2 separate regions of the Homo sapiens genome follow, and region 2 is linked to region 1. Evidence: fine-mapped expression QTL. Tissue or cell type: whole blood. Region 1 holds a variant in brackets; the other region holds the start of a gene. All regions are shown on one strand. Distances are between the middles of the regions.

Region 1 (8,106 bases):
ACACTCTGGTCTCAAGAATTTTCCATAAGGAATACTCAACCTGTATAGAGAACTCCTAAGTCTCAACACACACAAAAAATCCAATTCAAAAATGGTCAAAGAATGAAACAGACATTTCTTCAAAGAAGATATATAAATGGCCAATAAGCCTATGAAAAATGCTCATTATCACTAATCATTAGCAAAAATTCAAATAAAAACTTAGATGAGATAATACCTCACACCCACTGGGATGGCTACTGTCAAAAAAACGAAATAACAATTGTTGGCGAGGATGTGGAGGAATTATAGCCCTTATGCACCGTTGGTGAGAATGTAAAAGAGTACAGCCACTGTGGAAAACAGTATAGCAGTTCCTCAAAAAGTTAAAAATAGGCCGGCACAGTCCAGCCTTTGGGAGGCCGAGGTGGGTGGATAGCTTGAGCCCAGGAGTTTGAGACCACCCTGGCCAACATGGGGATACCCCATCTCTACAAAAAATATAAAAACTTAGCCAGGTGTGGTGGCATGTGCCTTTAGCCCCAGCTATTCAAGAGGCTGAGGTGGGAGGATCACCTGAGCCTAGGAGGTCGAGGCAGCAGTGAGCTGTGATTGCACCACTACACTCCAGCCTGGGCAACAGAGTGAGACCCTAACTCAAAAAAAAAAAAGTTAATAATAGAATTATCATATGATCCAGCATTTCCACTTTCATGTTTATAATCAAAAGAATTGAAAGTAGGGTTTTGAAGATATATTTGTACACCCACGTTCATAGCAGCATCATTTACAATAGCTAAAACTTGGAAGCAACCTAAGTGTCCATCAACATACGATCGGATAAGCAAAATGTAGTATAATCATACAATGGAATATTATTTAGCTTAAAAAGGAAATTCTACAATATGCTACAACAGGGATGAACCTTAAGGACATTAGGCTGATGAAATAAGCCAGCCACAAAAAGACAAATGCTTTATGATTCTACTTATATAAGGTACTTAGAATAGTCAAAATCACAAAAACAAAGTAGAATTGTGATGGCAAGGGGCTGGAAAGAAAGGGAAATGGGGAATTATTGCATAAAGGGTAGAGAGTTTCAGGTTTACAAGGTGAAAAGATGGTTGCATTATTAATATACTTAGTACCACTGAACTGTATACTTAAAAATGGTTAAGACAGTAAATTTTATGTTATGTGTATTTTACCATAATTTTTAAAATAGAAAAAACATGCATAGCCTACTAAATTGAAGCCAGTCATAATCAGTCCCCAAAGGTAGTTATTTTTAACAGTTTAATGTAAAATAGTCCAGATCTTTCCTAGATATTTACTAAATACATATACATACATACTCTTTTAAAATAGAAATGTGATGTATCATATACTATTTTGAAATTTGCTTTCATTTAACAATACAACTTAGATATCCTTCCATATTAGTACATCTCTCTCATTTTTTCAAGAACTTGTTTTAAGCAAATACATGAACATCTAAAGAAAGAATAGCCTCTGAAAGACCTTGCCTACATTGGAAACGGCTCAAGAGAGCTCACCCGAAATTCCATGACATCCACAAATGACTGGTAGTAGTTGGTGAGGAATCTAATTATCTCGGCTTTTTCACGATGTACTGGTCCTAAATGTTGCTGAGAGAAACACAAAACAAAACAATAAAAAAGTGCAAAATAAGACAATTGATCCAAATAACTCAAGAAGAACAGTGGTTATACCTAAAACATTCTTAAAGAGGGTTGAGGCCGGGCGCAGTGGCTCACACCTGTAATCCCAGCACTTTGGGAGGCCGAGGCAGGCGGATCACCTGAGGTCAGGGGTTCAAGACCAGCCTGGCCAACCTGGTGAAACCCCGTCTCTATTAAAAATACAAAAATTAGCTGGGCGTGGTGGCGGGCGCCTGTAATGCCAGCTACTCGAGAGGCTGAGTCAGAAGAATCACTTGAACCTGGGAAGCAGAGGTTGCAGTGAGCCAAGATTGTGCTACTGCACTCCAGCCTGGGTGACAGAGCAAGACTCCATCTCAAAAAAAAAAAAAAAGAAAAGAAAAGAAAAAGAAAGAGAGTTGAAATATACTGACAGAGGAAGTTAGAAACGCTTCAGTGCTCTGAAGGTCTTTAAACAAAGGAGATTGTCTATCTAGGTAGAATGGTTGCATGTGATCCTGACTAGATACAGAGGGCTAAATGAGAGGAAATTTTAAGCACCCTTTCAGATGAACAGATATACTATTTATATCAAAGTCAAAAGAAACAGAATTCAAAGATGCTACAAAGATGGGTGAAAAATCTAGGGTTAACATTTAATAAGGGAAAAGTAGAGATATCCCATTAGATGCAGAAATCTAAGACAAACAGCAAGGAAACAGTGAGTGGGAAACAGAAACAATAAAATACATGTACCCTGCTGGGTTGATAGAGCTGTCTTGTACAAAAACAATGTTTTCCCATGAATCTTGCAATGGAAAAGGGGTGATGATTCGCTCCAGCTTATGCTGGAAGAATCCCATCTTATCTCAAAATGCTCAAGACTTAAAGCTCTACAACAACCTGAAGCCCTGTGGTTGAGCCTTGGAAAACTATTAATAAAAAAAGACTACTCCATCCCCTGCCAAGTTTGAAGAGAGGCATCAAAAGAGGAGAATTTCAGCCATTCAAGCAGAGAATTATTCAGAGAAAGGAGAGAAGGACCAAGTTCTCACCGTGCTGTTTCGGACATCTATGTTGGGAAATTTCTTGTTGATATACTTGAGAGATGGTTCCATGGACTTTTCCAGTAAGAAAGGTGGCTTAGATTTGGGGTCTGAACAAGTCTGCAGAGAGAAACCATATATATTTCAACCCTTTCTCCTCCTCCTCAGAAACATACCTCTTCTTGCAACATTCATTCTCATAATCTGTCTTAGGAAAAGGCAACCTGGGAACTAATTTAAAAAGCATGAGAGGCTGGGCGCAGCGGCTCACACCTGTAATCCCAGCACTTCGGGAGGCCGAGGCAGGCAGATCACAAGGTCAGAAGTTCGAGACCAGCCTGGCCAACATGGTGAAACCCCGTCTCTACTAAAAATACAAAAATTAGCTGGGCATGGTGGTGCACAACTGTAGTCCCAGGTACTTGGGAGGCTGAGGCAGGAGAATCGCTTGAACCCGGGAGGCGGAGGTTGCAGTGAGCCAAGATCGTGCCACTGCACTCCAGCCTGGGCGACAGAGCGAGACTCCGAAAATAAATAAATAAATAAATAAATAAATAAATATAAAAATAAAAAGCATAAGAGTAGGTCAAGAAAAAATTCCAAGACATTAAGCCAAGTATCTAAGAGCGAAATAACAACCTAGGCATTTTGTCTTGATGGGTAGAGTTTAATGCCTGCTTGGCCCCAGCACAAAGAGGAAGCTGTTTCCCCGCCCCTCAACTGAAGCCGGAAGGAACAAGAAAAGCAGCTGCTCAGGAGTTAGACTTTGTACAAGATTCAGTGTCACAATTTTGTTCACTATGTAAGTATCTTATCCCAAAGGGCATTTACAGGATTCATGGTGACAGAGAAACCGTGTTCCTGGTGATTTGTTTTATTACAAAAAACACAAAAGCTCCCTCCCCCAAAGTCCCCTATTTTCTATGCCAGGAACTCCCCATAAACACCCCTGTCTTTATCTCTTTACTTCCTATGGTTTGCCCAGCCCCTAGCCCACCTCTTGTCACTAGCTTCTTTCAATTCCTCAGTTCCTATTCTAAACACACACACACACACACACACACACACACACACAACCACCACAGCATGAACTACCCCAGGAGCAGCTCAGAAGACACCTACCCTTTTTAATCTAAATACCTAATTATCTATTTTTTTTCCTTTTAGGGAAGCACTTCCACAGAAAAGTTTTTGCCAGAGACCCAGCTTCAGATCTCTTCAGAGTGTAGAGGATCAACAATAAATAATAAAACCCAGAAGGTTGGACCCCAGACCTTTATCCAAGTCACTTGGAATACCACTGTTGTTTCCCCATCCCCACCCTCACCCCCATCCCCAGAGGAAAGCAGATGCCATCGTTGGGGCAAGAA[T/A]CATATCTAGAAAGGGGAAGCCTTGAAAAGAAGCCTCCACTTCTGCCTTCCTGAACTGGCTGGCCTGTATAATCTGAGTGATTATGTAGATTATAGTCAGTGGAAAAGCAGTGGAAAAAAAGGTGGGAGTCTAACTGCTGCACCTGCCGCCTCAGGGTTCCCTGCCCTATTATTGTTGGAATAATCAGTACTAGTCCCATTGTTCATGCTTACCTTCTTGATGTTATACATACGGATGAGAACCCCCTGACCGCGATCATTCAGGATAGTGAGCTTCTCTGCTAATTTATGCTGGTAAGCAGATGTCAAAGACATGATGGCCACTGAGAGAGGAGCACCAGACAGCAATGTCTGATCTCCCCAAACACTTTCAGCTTAGATGGTGACACCCTCTGGCGGAGGGACCCAGCCTGGTTGGTGCACTGGTCTTCTGTTGCCTCTGCAATTGGCTCATGGGTGAAATCAGTCATTATGGCTCACAGGCCCTCAGAGCCTTCTTGTGCTTCCTCTTGCACACTCAGCAGGGGAGACTTCCTCTTTCTGGCTGTGCAGCACTTTTGGTAAGGCTATGAAGTGGGTGGAGCTGAGGAGAAGGACAGGCTTTCAAGGCTCTTCACAGACTGCACCAACCTTTTTGGTCTTATGCCCCCATAAGTGTCCTAGACAAAGCTGGGCGTGGTGGCTCACACCTGTAATCCCAGCACTTTGGGAGGAAAAGGTGGGAAGATCCATTGAGCTCAGGAGTTCCAGACCAGCCTGGGCAACATAGCAAGACCCCATCTCTATAAAAAATAAAAATTAAAAGCTGTAAGCTAGATAAACAAGTATCTACCACCCCACCCCTGTACACCTCTATATTTTCCTTCTTTTATATCCAAGAATGCCTATGAACCTTTGGCCTCATCATGTTTTAGTACCCAGATCAAATCCCATCTTCTCCTAAAGACCCCATCAATGTCAAATATTATATTGTATTATATTTTATATTGTCAAATACATATATTCCTTGTTATATGTTTATAGTGTACGTTGTATCTCCCCCAACTACAGCATAAGCTCCTTAATGACAGGAATTGTACCTAATACTTTTTTTTCTTTTTTTTTTTTTTTTTGAAACAGAGTTCCACTCTTGTTGCCCAGGCTGGAGTGCAATGGCATGATCTCTGCTCACTACAACCTCCACCTCCTGGGCTCAAGCAATTCTCCAGCCTCAGCCTCTGGAGTAGCTGTGGTTACAGGTGCCCACCACCACGCCTTGCTAATTTTTGTATTTTTAGTAGACATGGGGTTTCACCGTGTTGGCCAGGCTGCTCTCGAACTCCTGACCTCAGGTGATTTACCCGCCACAGCCTCCCAAAGTACTGGAATTACAGGCATGAGCCACCACACCCGGCCTCTAATACTTTTTTATATTTCTCACAATGCTCTACTACAGTGCATTGTACTTCTACAGTACATAATAATTCTCAAAGTAGTTCTCAAGAAGTACATAGTAATTCTCAAAATGTGATCCAGCAGCATCAGCATCACCTGGAAACTTGTTAGAGATGCAAATTCTTAGGACCCGCCCCAGACCACTGAATCCAAAATTCTGGGGTGGGTCCAGGCACTCTGTGTTTTAACAAACCCTCCAGGTGATTCCAATGCACACTCAAGTTTGAGAACCAGTGCTCTAGTACCATGGTATTTATGGATGCTTGAGAAACAGATCAATCCCTGTCCTCTGAGATTAGCATTGGTAGGTAGGCGAGTCTGTTGTGGGGCCTAGAAGTCTGTACTTATATAAGCACTGTTGTAGGAGGTTTTGGTACAAATATTCCATTCTGAAAAACACTGATCTAGAACAATACCTCTTGGACACAGTAGTCACTCAATAAATATGCTGGTTTATTTGTTGAATTATTAAGACTAAATTAGGAAATAGGCCCCATGAAGAAGAACCAAATTAATCAAGATTAAAAAGAGGAAATTAGTAATCACCCTTAAATCTTAGAGACTTGAATGAATTTTAGCATTAAAATATTCTTGCCATTCCAATGAGGCCTTAACTCCGTAACTCAAGAAAATTTTCAACTCTATTTCAACTTTCTTTCAAGACACAAAGCAAAAGGTCCTAGGAAAAATTATAAATCAAAAAGAGTTCTCTTCATTTCCACCACCTTGCCAATTCCTTTTCTCAGGTTTTTAATCATTCCCATTTTCCGTATCCAGAGTTCCCATTGTCCCAATAAATTCTAGGGAGTGGGAGAAGAGAGACAAGGCTGATCAGCATTATTACTTAAGAAGTTGGGGCCAGGTGAAGTGGCTCATGCTTATAATCCCAGCACTTTGGGAGGCAAAGGTAGAAGGATTGCTTGAAGCCAGGAGTTCAAGACCAGCCTAGGCAACATTGTGAGACCTTCCCCCACCCCTCTACAGATAAAATAAAATAAATTAGCCTGGTGTGGTGGTACATGGCTGTAGGCCCAGCTCCTCAGGAGGCTGAGGTGGGATGGTCGCTTGAGCCCAGGAGTTCAACACCGCACTCCAGCCTGGTCGATAGAGCAAGACTATGTCTCTAAATAAATAAATAAATAAATAAATAAATAAATAAAGGCAAGAAAGAAAAAAAAACTTGAGTACTGTGTTCACTATTTGGGCATGGGTGATGGGTTCATTAGAAGCCCAAATCTCAGCATCACACAATATACCCATGTAACAAACCTGCATGTGTATCCCCTGAATCTAAATGTTTTTTAATTTTAAAAAGAAACTTAACATCCATGCTCCAAAGAGAATGTATTTTTAAAAGAAGCAGCAAGATGGCAACACTTAACGCATGAAATTTCAAATATCTCTAAGGTAGAATTTGCATTTTAGGAATATAGAATCTGCCTTCCATTTTATTTACTAGACTGGGTCCCTAGAAAGCTATGGGCTCGAGGTAATGTGATATTGGTCATGAAGATTTGAATTACCTGCTGTTATCAAAGAAACCCAGGTTTTACTAAAGCAATTTGTAGGATTTCTACTGGTCTTTTACCTTTACCAAGGAGAATATGGAGCAGACAGTAAGAGGCCAACATCCAGGAAGCTTAGCAGCAGCATAGCACCGGTCTTCGTGGGGTTAGTGTAATTCTAGCGGCTCTTTCTTGCATTCCTTTTTTTTTTTTTTTTTTTTTTCCTGAGACAAGCTCTCGCTCTGTTGCCCAGGCTTGAGTGCAGTAGTGCTATCATGGCTCACTGCAACCTTGACCTCCCAGGCTCAAGAGATCCTCTCACTTCAGCCTCCTGAGTAGCTGGGACTTCAGGTGCAGGCCACCACGTCTGGCTAATTTTTGTATTTTTTGTGAGCCACCTCACTTGAATTTCTTGTCTTTATCCTGAAAGTGTGGTTGAAGACTCTGCATCCCAAGCTAATCTTGTTTCCTGCTCCTTAATGGATACTCCCCAACTTGGTGGGGACCATCTTCTCAGCCTGCTGTGAATGTGCTATGTTCATGTCTGCCTCTCTGACTTCACTTACGCATGCTTTCCTTCTTGCTTACCCAAATCCTAGTCAATCTTCAGGATCTAGCTCAATAGTCCCAAGTCTAGGTTTTGCCGAACTCCCACAACACTTGGTCTATACCACATACTTTACATCTAAATCAGGTTCTGTCCTTAACTGCCCATTTCATATAATACTGCCTAGCCAGCTGAACCAAAAGATTGTTGAAACCTGGAAACACTTATTCCCCTGTACTTGGTATATGCGAAAAGCCTACCTGCTGTTATCAGACAGAATTTGGCTCAAGTGTAGTTGAGTACAGTGGGCTGAGCCTTATGATTTAGTGACCGAGAGCCCAGGTTCTGGAACCAGATATCTTGAGTTCACATCCTATTTATCCTGTCTGTAAAATAAAGATGATATTGATAATACTTCCTATTTCACGGAGCTATTGTGCATATTTTAAAAGTTATAGCCTAGTTACTTACTCTGTACATGTAAAGCATTTGAAGTACTATAAGCACTCAAGCTTACATGTATTACCTCAATTAATATTAATAATGCTAAACACTTACTAGCTT
Region 2 (8,106 bases), 51 kb before region 1:
TTGATGGAGTTGAAGCAGGTTACAAGCTCTGTAGGAAGAGGGACTATGTCTGTTTTGTCCACCACCGACTGTATTCTCAGCATCCAGCATGCCACCTGGTCCATAGAAGGCACTCAAGAAATAGTTGTTGGATAAATAAATGAGCTGAGGATGGCAAACCAATGTCTGCTCATCGTTTTTCTTGAATCACAAAAGACACAGAAAATCATTTCTATCTCTTCTGGTCTTCTTCCCATTCCCTAAAGCCCTCTGATCTCAGAGAAGGGTGGACAGCCAAGTCAAATACTTCCTCTTAGGGTTACAGATGCTGAAAATCATCCTGGCCAACTCATCATCTCCAGATGGCCTCTTTCACCCTCTCTCATGCCTCAGTTTATGAGTTTGCTTAATTAGAGAAATTGTTCTGAAAATAGGGGTAAAATCACACAGTTAAGAGATTCTCTTCAGCTCATATGATACAGATTAGATTCTGAATTTATTTTTGACAGGGTCTTAGTGTGGGAAACAGAATTCTTGGATGCTCTTCCCAACAAAAAATTGCCCTGCACTATTATATTAGTGTGGGCTTTTTATCCAGAGTCAAAAACACCAGGCCTAGTCTCCCTGAAGAAAGTCTGGATGTCCTGATTAGAAATTAAAAGGGTAGAAGGGGGGGAATAGGATGTGTTGAGTAGAAGAATCTAGATAGATAGTTAGATAAATACATACAAGTATATATGCCATGTTTCCATTTCCAAGCAGTACCCAGTCCTAAGATAATCATGTCTATTTCCTATTTCCAGACTTAGCAACCCCTTCCCACCTTGACCAAAGGGGCAGGGGGATCTTTATTTCCACTTAAAAGGGGGAACATCTCCTTTCTCACCTATTCAGAAACCATCCCATTGAGAGGGTTGGGAAACTCCCACCTCTTACCCAGCAAAGCCCTAAATCCTTTTATTTCCCTTCATCTGATAGTCAAAGCCTCCCCAATATTCAAAAAGGCAAAATCCAGTAGGCCATCAACATAGATCAAGTTGGGATCTACCTTGATTTCAAGGTCTTTCTCTGCTTTAAGGACGTAAGACTGGGAATCTATTCCTGCCAATTAATAATCCGGAGATTGTACTTTTTTGGGTAAGTTATATTACATGTAGCTAGCTTTATTTTTTACTTGTAAATTTATTGTACAAAGCTAGCATTCTTAAGGACCAGACTGCTGAAGTGAGTGAAGACCAGAATGATCTAATCAATAAGAATAGGGATCCTTGTCCACCCTAATCTCATGTAAGGACATCTCAGCTAAGGCACTCTGGAGAGACAGATGCCTCTACTCCCTTCTCTTCCCAGGTTTCATGCCTCCTTCTGGGAATCCTCTTCTCTCACCACTGAGCACTTCTCACACTAAAGGAAGAAACAACAATTCATTTTCAGGAAAGGCTTTTGGTTAGAAATGTGTGGGAGATAGTGAAACTAGTAATACCCACTCTTTCGCAGGGCCCTGTTACCTGGAATACAGGCAAGGTAAGTATGATGAGCCACTAGTGTTAGGGGAGCCATCCTGAATTCTCCCATTTATGGACCTGGGGCCCTTCTTTACCTTTCAACTACTTCCTTATCTGCCCCTTTCCCCAGCTCATTTACCATTAACGCAGCGTCATTTTCTATCAAGAATCACACAGTGCTCCTCCCAACAAAAATCAGTTCAATCTGGTTTTCCATTTCTTCATCCCAGAACTCATTCCAAGGCTGTGCTTCATAGAGCCCAGCAAATTGGATTGGCCAGAGGCAGCCAAGGAGGAGGACTGAGAAGTACATTTGGATTCCAAGCCTTGTTGCCCACTATGCCTCAGTTCTCCCTAACGCCTCTCCAAGTAGCTAGTGTATAAATCAGACCCATCTGCCATAAAAAGGTGTCATCTTATCACCATAGGTGAAGTATTTAAAGAACAATACAACATAAGCATCTATCCATCCCCTACCCCCATCTCTCCCTCTCCCAGAACCCAGAAATAGAAAGCTTCGGTGCTCACTATGGAGAACATTGAGGAGGAACTGGGTTCAGGGCTATGTTTACTGTGTTTCCTCTCTAAACATCCATAGTCTCCTATCTGTTTCCTCTTTCCTGGGGCCATGGATTCATCTCGGAGAGAGGGACATCTTCTCTTGTTCCCTGATTAAGAATCAACAGACTGCGGAGATTTCCCAATGGCAGCAGCTGACTGGGAGATAAACATGGTGCATGGCTTGTCTTTGACCCAATCCTCTTTTTTTTCTAAGGAGCAGGGGAAAAGTTCCTTTCCTCCCCTGGGACTGGAGTATCAGATACCTGAGTTCTTCCTTCCCCCATTTATTCCTCCCCACATGCCCTGGTACTGCAACAATAGGAAAAGATGCCCAAATGTGCTTGGAGATCCTGGAAGACCCTATATAAACAAAAAGCCTCTGATTAAGCCAGTTACCTTGCCTTTGTCAATCAATATTTCTTCACCATCATCACCTCCTTCAGCTTCCAGGTGGGGGCTCCAACCCCCCCTCCAGATTCCACGTGGGTCCCCTCATCATTAATACATAGAGTGAGTTTCCAGGCCCCAAGAGATGAGCAGCTCAGGCATGGGGTAACCCCCACCCCACTTCCTGTGCATGAGGCAGAAACTACCAATCCCAACTGAGATACATATGACCCACAGGTTGGCACAAGTATTCCCATGCAGTAGATCTACAGCTGTGTGCAATCACTCCACATACCTCTGTGACCCACGCTCACTCATGCACACACATGTCATGTGGCTCACATCTGCACAACTCTGCACATGGATATGTGTGAGTCAGCCTGGCACCTCTACTGCCCTCCTGCAGCCCTGCCACACTGCATATACTGTGCTGCCTCTAGGCGCTGCGTGTGTCAGCCTGGGGTCCACAGGCACAGGCACATCGTTACCTTTGCAACTCCTAAGCCCGCTCCAACTGGCCAGCTTGCTCCGCACATGCCTTGCACATGTGGCCTGGCCACGCGTGTCAGGGCCGTGCTTCCTCGCACCTGCCAACATCTGTGCCAAAGAGAATCTACCAGCCCACAGCCCTGCTCCAGTTATCCCCCCTCCTCCTCCCGCTCAGGCTCCCTAAGGTCCCTTCCCCCCATTCCCGGGCCGGGGACTTACAGAGACCGAAGCTTAATCCACATCTTCTTGCTGGGGGCTGACTTCAGCTCCAGGGGTGACGGGCAATCCGACTCCTCCAGCATCTCCGGAGGACTGCGGGGGGACAGCTCCATGCTCAGCCACGGTCTACGGAACAGAAGGAGGAGACAGCACCTCGGCTCAGCTTCAGCCCCAGCCGAGAGACCCTCACCCCCCATCCCAGGCCCTTCCCACCTGCGGCTGGCGTGGACCAGCCAGGCCGGTGTCTCTAGGCTCGGCCCAAGCTGGCAGAGCTGCAGCTCCTGCGGCTCCTCCTCTCCCGCTGCCCAGCCGAGCTTTGGGCTCCCAGTCCAAGCTCTCCGCACCGCCGCTGCTGCTGCCGCTACCGCCGCCGCCGCCGCGCGCTGCCAGAGCCGCCTCCTCGCCTCTCTCCTCCTCCCCCGGCCGGGTTCCCCCCTCCCTCTGCTCTCCCTCCCTTCTCCTCAGCCTGCCCGCCAGTCTCTCACTCCTCACAGCCACTCCTCCCCCTCCCAAAGGAACGATTGGAAGCCGGGGGCACACACAGACAGAAGCGCCCAAGGGCGAGCGCACGCACACAGGCGCCGGGGACGAGTGGCTGCGTGTGCCCTGTACTGGCGGATGTGAGTGCGTGTTTACAGAGTGCAGCGGAGGCGGCGGGCTGGACTTCGGTGTGGGTGGTTGTGTGGGTTCTCTCCGTGTGTTTTGAGTTTCTGTGTATGTGGTTGTGGTTCCATGTATCCACGTGTGCCTAGCTGCCTGCGTGTCCCATGTCTGAGTGCGGGGTAGGGGATGAGCACACATCTTTCCCTGCTAGATCTGGACTCGGAACCCAGTCGGACCAGACCCCACCTGTGCTCCTGTCTTGGAAAAGTTCAGGGTGTGCCCTGAGCTGTGATGGCATCCCACACTTGGCCTCGGGTCCCTCAGCTTGATCTTCCCCACCTGTCTCCAAGACTGTGGCCTTCTCCATGGTACTTCTGCCTGCCCGCCTAGCAGATAGGAATTTCTTCCAAGTTCAAAGCTCTCCAGAGCAGGCATCTTTTTTTTTTTTTTTTTTTTTTTTTTTTTTTTTGAGAAGGAGTCTGTGTCGCCCAGGCTGCAGTGCAGTGGCGCGATCTCGGCTCACTGCAACCTCTGCCTCCCCAGTTCCAGCGATTCTCCTGCCTCAGCCTCCTGGAGTAGCTGGGACTACAGGCGCGGGCCACCACGCCGGCTAATTTTTGTATTTTTTAGTAGAGATGGGGTTTCACTATATTGGCCAGGCTGGTCTCCAACTCCTGACCTCGTGATCCGCCCACGTCGGCCTCCCAAAGTGGTGGGATTACAGGTGTGAGCCACCGCACCCAGCTTAACATCTTCTTCTTTGACTAGGTAATAACTCTACACAGCCAGGAAAGCATTCCTGATATCAAAACCCCTCCTGAAGCACTTCCAGCTCATTTTTTCTGTTCTGTCTTCAGAGAAAGAAATCTAGGAGCTAAAGGCCCAGCACAAAACAGCCTAGCTGGTTAATAAACATTTGTGGAAGGAGTGAACTGGAATTTGAACTCAAGACCTTGTAAAAGGGCAAAGCCTCCTCCATCCAACCGAGTCCTACCTAGGACTCTTGCAGGAACCACCTCTCTTGCTCCATATTGTTCTCTCCCTTAATGACCACCTGCTTTGGCATTGGGGAAACTCCTATGTCAACAGAAAGTGGAGATATATTCACTAACTACTGAATCCAAAACAGGCCACTAATCCAGGATCCCAGAATGTGAATTTTAATTTCAAAAAATTCTGGAGGTTGGAAGGAGGAGTGATCAGGAGAAGGTATTTACTCTGTTCTAAATACTGAGTGGAGGCTCCTCCTCTCCCAGTCAGAGAAGGAGAAAAGAAGTGAAATGGAAGGGCGAAGAAGCGGATGAACTGTCACAGCTAAGACTCCTAACATAAAAGAATTGCCAAGTTAGGTCAGCATTTAGATTCAGCAGAAGTATCAGCAGAACCAGCTCCCAGAAAGTACAGAGGCAGAAAGAGATGGCAGAGTCAGAGATGGAGAAAAAAGTGGAAATAATAAGGGACTTCCCACCCTCTGTCCATCTACCTTTAGCACACATCCCTTGGCTTTTCCCCAGACCCAGCCAAGAAATGGCTGCATCTGAGACCCTAGTCACACTCCTACACAGTCCATTTCTGAAAATTTGGGAGCAATCTCCTCCTTATCAACTGAAAATGAAATGGGCTGGAAACTACAAAAGAATTGCAAATTAGGATGGTGCTAAAGAGCTCTAATTAGTAAATTAGGATTAGAGCTAAGGAGTTTCCAAATTTAGGCAGGTCTTTAAACTAGAATAGGTGGGAAAGAGGCAAGACATACATCCAGAGGGCTCTCTCAACATTTCTTGTTAACACAGTGTCACATCCTGCTCTCCCAAGACCCCCTGCTCCTGATTCATTTTAAGGCTAATTCACACACACACACACACACACACACACACACGCACACACACACAAAGTTATTCGTGAAAGAGACATTAGAGTTCATCCACTCTAATTCCCTTCATTTAATAAATGGGAAAACTTCATAGACAACACAGTTTGATGGAAAAAGTAAAAATAAAAATAAATGAGAACTAAACTAACCCAGAAAAATTATAGGGTCTCACAGAGAGTAAGTGATAAAACCAGAGCCAAGTCTATCAGCCTTTTTCACTCTGTGGCTCCTTTCACTTTCTTTAGTCACCAGTCCTGGTGTTTAGTCTCAACCTCATTCCTCTTGTTGCAATACAATCCCATTTCTACCTTGCTGCGTCTCTAAACAGATAAGAATTGGGTATACTTGTTCCACTCTGAGGCTCAAAAGACAACTATTCTCTCCCTGTCTTTTCCTCTTGTCCTCATCCCCCACCTTTCCCAGGCTCCTTCTCATTCCTCTCCTTTTCAGCTTCTAAACTGCCCCCTACCCCTAGGAGGCTCTGCCTCCTCACTCCCCTAACCCCACAATCCTTTCCAACAAGCTTTGAGTTTGATAGAAACCAAAAATGATGCTTTGGCAGTAGGTGACGGATGGATGTGATCTGCCTCCTACGGGAATGCTATTTAAAGGGGCAGCCTCACAATCCTCTCCTTCCAAAGTGACAAGAGAAAAGTCTGCTCCTCAATCTCTCCAGAGCTGCAAACTCAGCTCAAGTTAACTTCTGACTTCCTCAACCTGCAACCTGGCCTGCTGCTCCTGCTTCCTATTCAAGTGGGAGGGAGAGTACTTGACAACTCATTGAGGTGTGGGGGCTGAAGGGGGATTCATCTTCATCTCCTTTGATGACAGGTACTTAGGAGAAGCAGGAGGCCCTGTGGGGAGGAGGACTGGAAGAACACTCTTCCCCCAACCGCGTGAGTGCATTTCAGCCATGTGCCAGCTTCTTCTCAAAGTCAAACTTTGTTGGAGAAGAACTAATATAAGCATGAGGACCTAAGGTTAAGGAAGCCTTGTCCCTAGCTGGGGGACACAGATATACCCTCCCTCCCTCCTGGATCCTGGTATTCACAGCACAGTTGTTCCCTTCCTGCAAAGCAAAGTGCTACAGGGCATCATCCCCTTGGCCAGGCCCTGGACCTTCTGCATTTTTTTTTTTTTTTTTTTTTGTGAGACAGGATCTTGCTCTGTCACCCAGACTGGAGTGCAATGGCATCATCTTCGCTCACTGCAACCTCTGCCTCCCGGACTCAAGCGATCCTCCCCACCTCAGCCTTCCAAGTAGCTAGGACTACAGGCAGGAACTACTACGCCCAGCTAATTTTCGTATTTTTTTGTAGAGACGGAGTTCGCCATGTTGACCAGGCTGGTCTTAACCTCCTTAGCTCAAGAGATCCACTGGCCTCAGCCTCCCAAAGTGTTGGGATTACAGACAACAGCCACCATGCCCAGCTAATTTTTTGTATTTTTGGAGAGACAGGGTTTCACTGTGTTGCCCAGAGTGGTCTCAAACTCCTGAGTTCAAGCGATCCGCCTGCCTCCCAAAGTGCTGGGATTACAGGGGTGAGCCACCACACCCAGTTCCTTCTGCACTTTGAAGCTGGCCCACCTGCCAACTGGATTGAACACCATGGCAGGGGAGGCAGTGTTTCTACTGTCCAAACAAAAGGGGGCACCTATGCAAGTATCTTGCCCCAGGCCTTGTGGGAGGCATAATTCCATCTCATTGCTGCAAGCAAGTTAATGGAGATGTTAATAAAAACACTACATTAATGAAAATGCTGAGGCTAGAACCTATTCTGTGCCTGTAAGACAAAACAATTGGGGTGAGATTTCTGATATCCATTCTTTAGTTCCTTTGGGCCTAAGTAAAGCAAACTTACAACCTGGGACACAACTTATTTTTTCCCAGGTTGTAAGAGGACAGAGACCCTCCTGGTAAAGGAAGCAAATTGCCTGAAATGCTGATGGGTCCTGTTACTTCTCTGTCCCTTCACCTCTGGACATTCACTTTTTGCTTCCGGTAGTAAAGGCCATCATGTCCTCACCTTCTCCAATTTGCTCCTTCTAAGGTCTCTGGATTCTAAAACCCAAGTCTTCCCTTGTGAAGAGGCAGACCGGGCAAGTAGAAAAGGTCTAGGACTGAACATCAGACTTGGGTCCCAGTTCTAGTTCTACTGCTAAACATGTGACCTTCATTAAGTCATTTAATATTTCTAAATCTGTTTTCTGACCTGAAATAGGAAAGCCTTCCCTGGCTACCTTGCAGAATTGCTATAAGGATGTGAAAGCACTTTGAAAAAGTATAAGTGGTAGAGAAATATGTGTGTATAATTATATGTTTACAAAAAGATATATCAAATGACAAAATTTTAGAAATAGAGAATATATCTGTGTTACCAGGAGCTAGAGATGGGGAAGGGGGTTGTGGGAGGAGAAAATTGCTATAAAATTGCTATAAAAGAGCAATGCGAGGGATCCTTGTGGTGATGGAACTGTTCTGTATCTTTT

The links. PIP is the estimated chance that this variant, and not a neighbour inherited with it, causes the effect.
Region 2: it holds the start of PDE1B, and the variant in region 1 is fine-mapped to the expression of PDE1B in whole blood (TOPMed, PIP above 0.99).

Annotation. Positions count from the first base shown.
Region 1 is chr12:54,494,055-54,502,160 of GRCh38, reverse strand. It overlaps NCKAP1L (NCK associated protein 1 like), which reads right to left and starts at 4,409. Exons shown (of 31, transcript NM_005337.5): 1 at 4,270-4,409; 2 at 2,696-2,806; 3 at 1,536-1,628. The coding sequence starts at 4,371. RefSeq lists enhancers at 4,218-4,277, 4,388-4,447. The variant T/A (reference allele first, on the strand shown) is at 4,057.
Region 2 is chr12:54,545,020-54,553,125 of GRCh38, reverse strand. PDE1B (phosphodiesterase 1B) reads right to left here and starts at 3,525. Exons shown (of 16, transcript NM_000924.4): 1 at 3,354-3,525; 2 at 3,141-3,266. The coding sequence starts at 3,253. It overlaps NCKAP1L (NCK associated protein 1 like), which reads right to left. Exons shown (of 31, transcript NM_005337.5): 31 at 4,883-8,106. RefSeq lists enhancers at 2,347-2,975, 6,123-6,667 and a silencer at 3,541-3,600.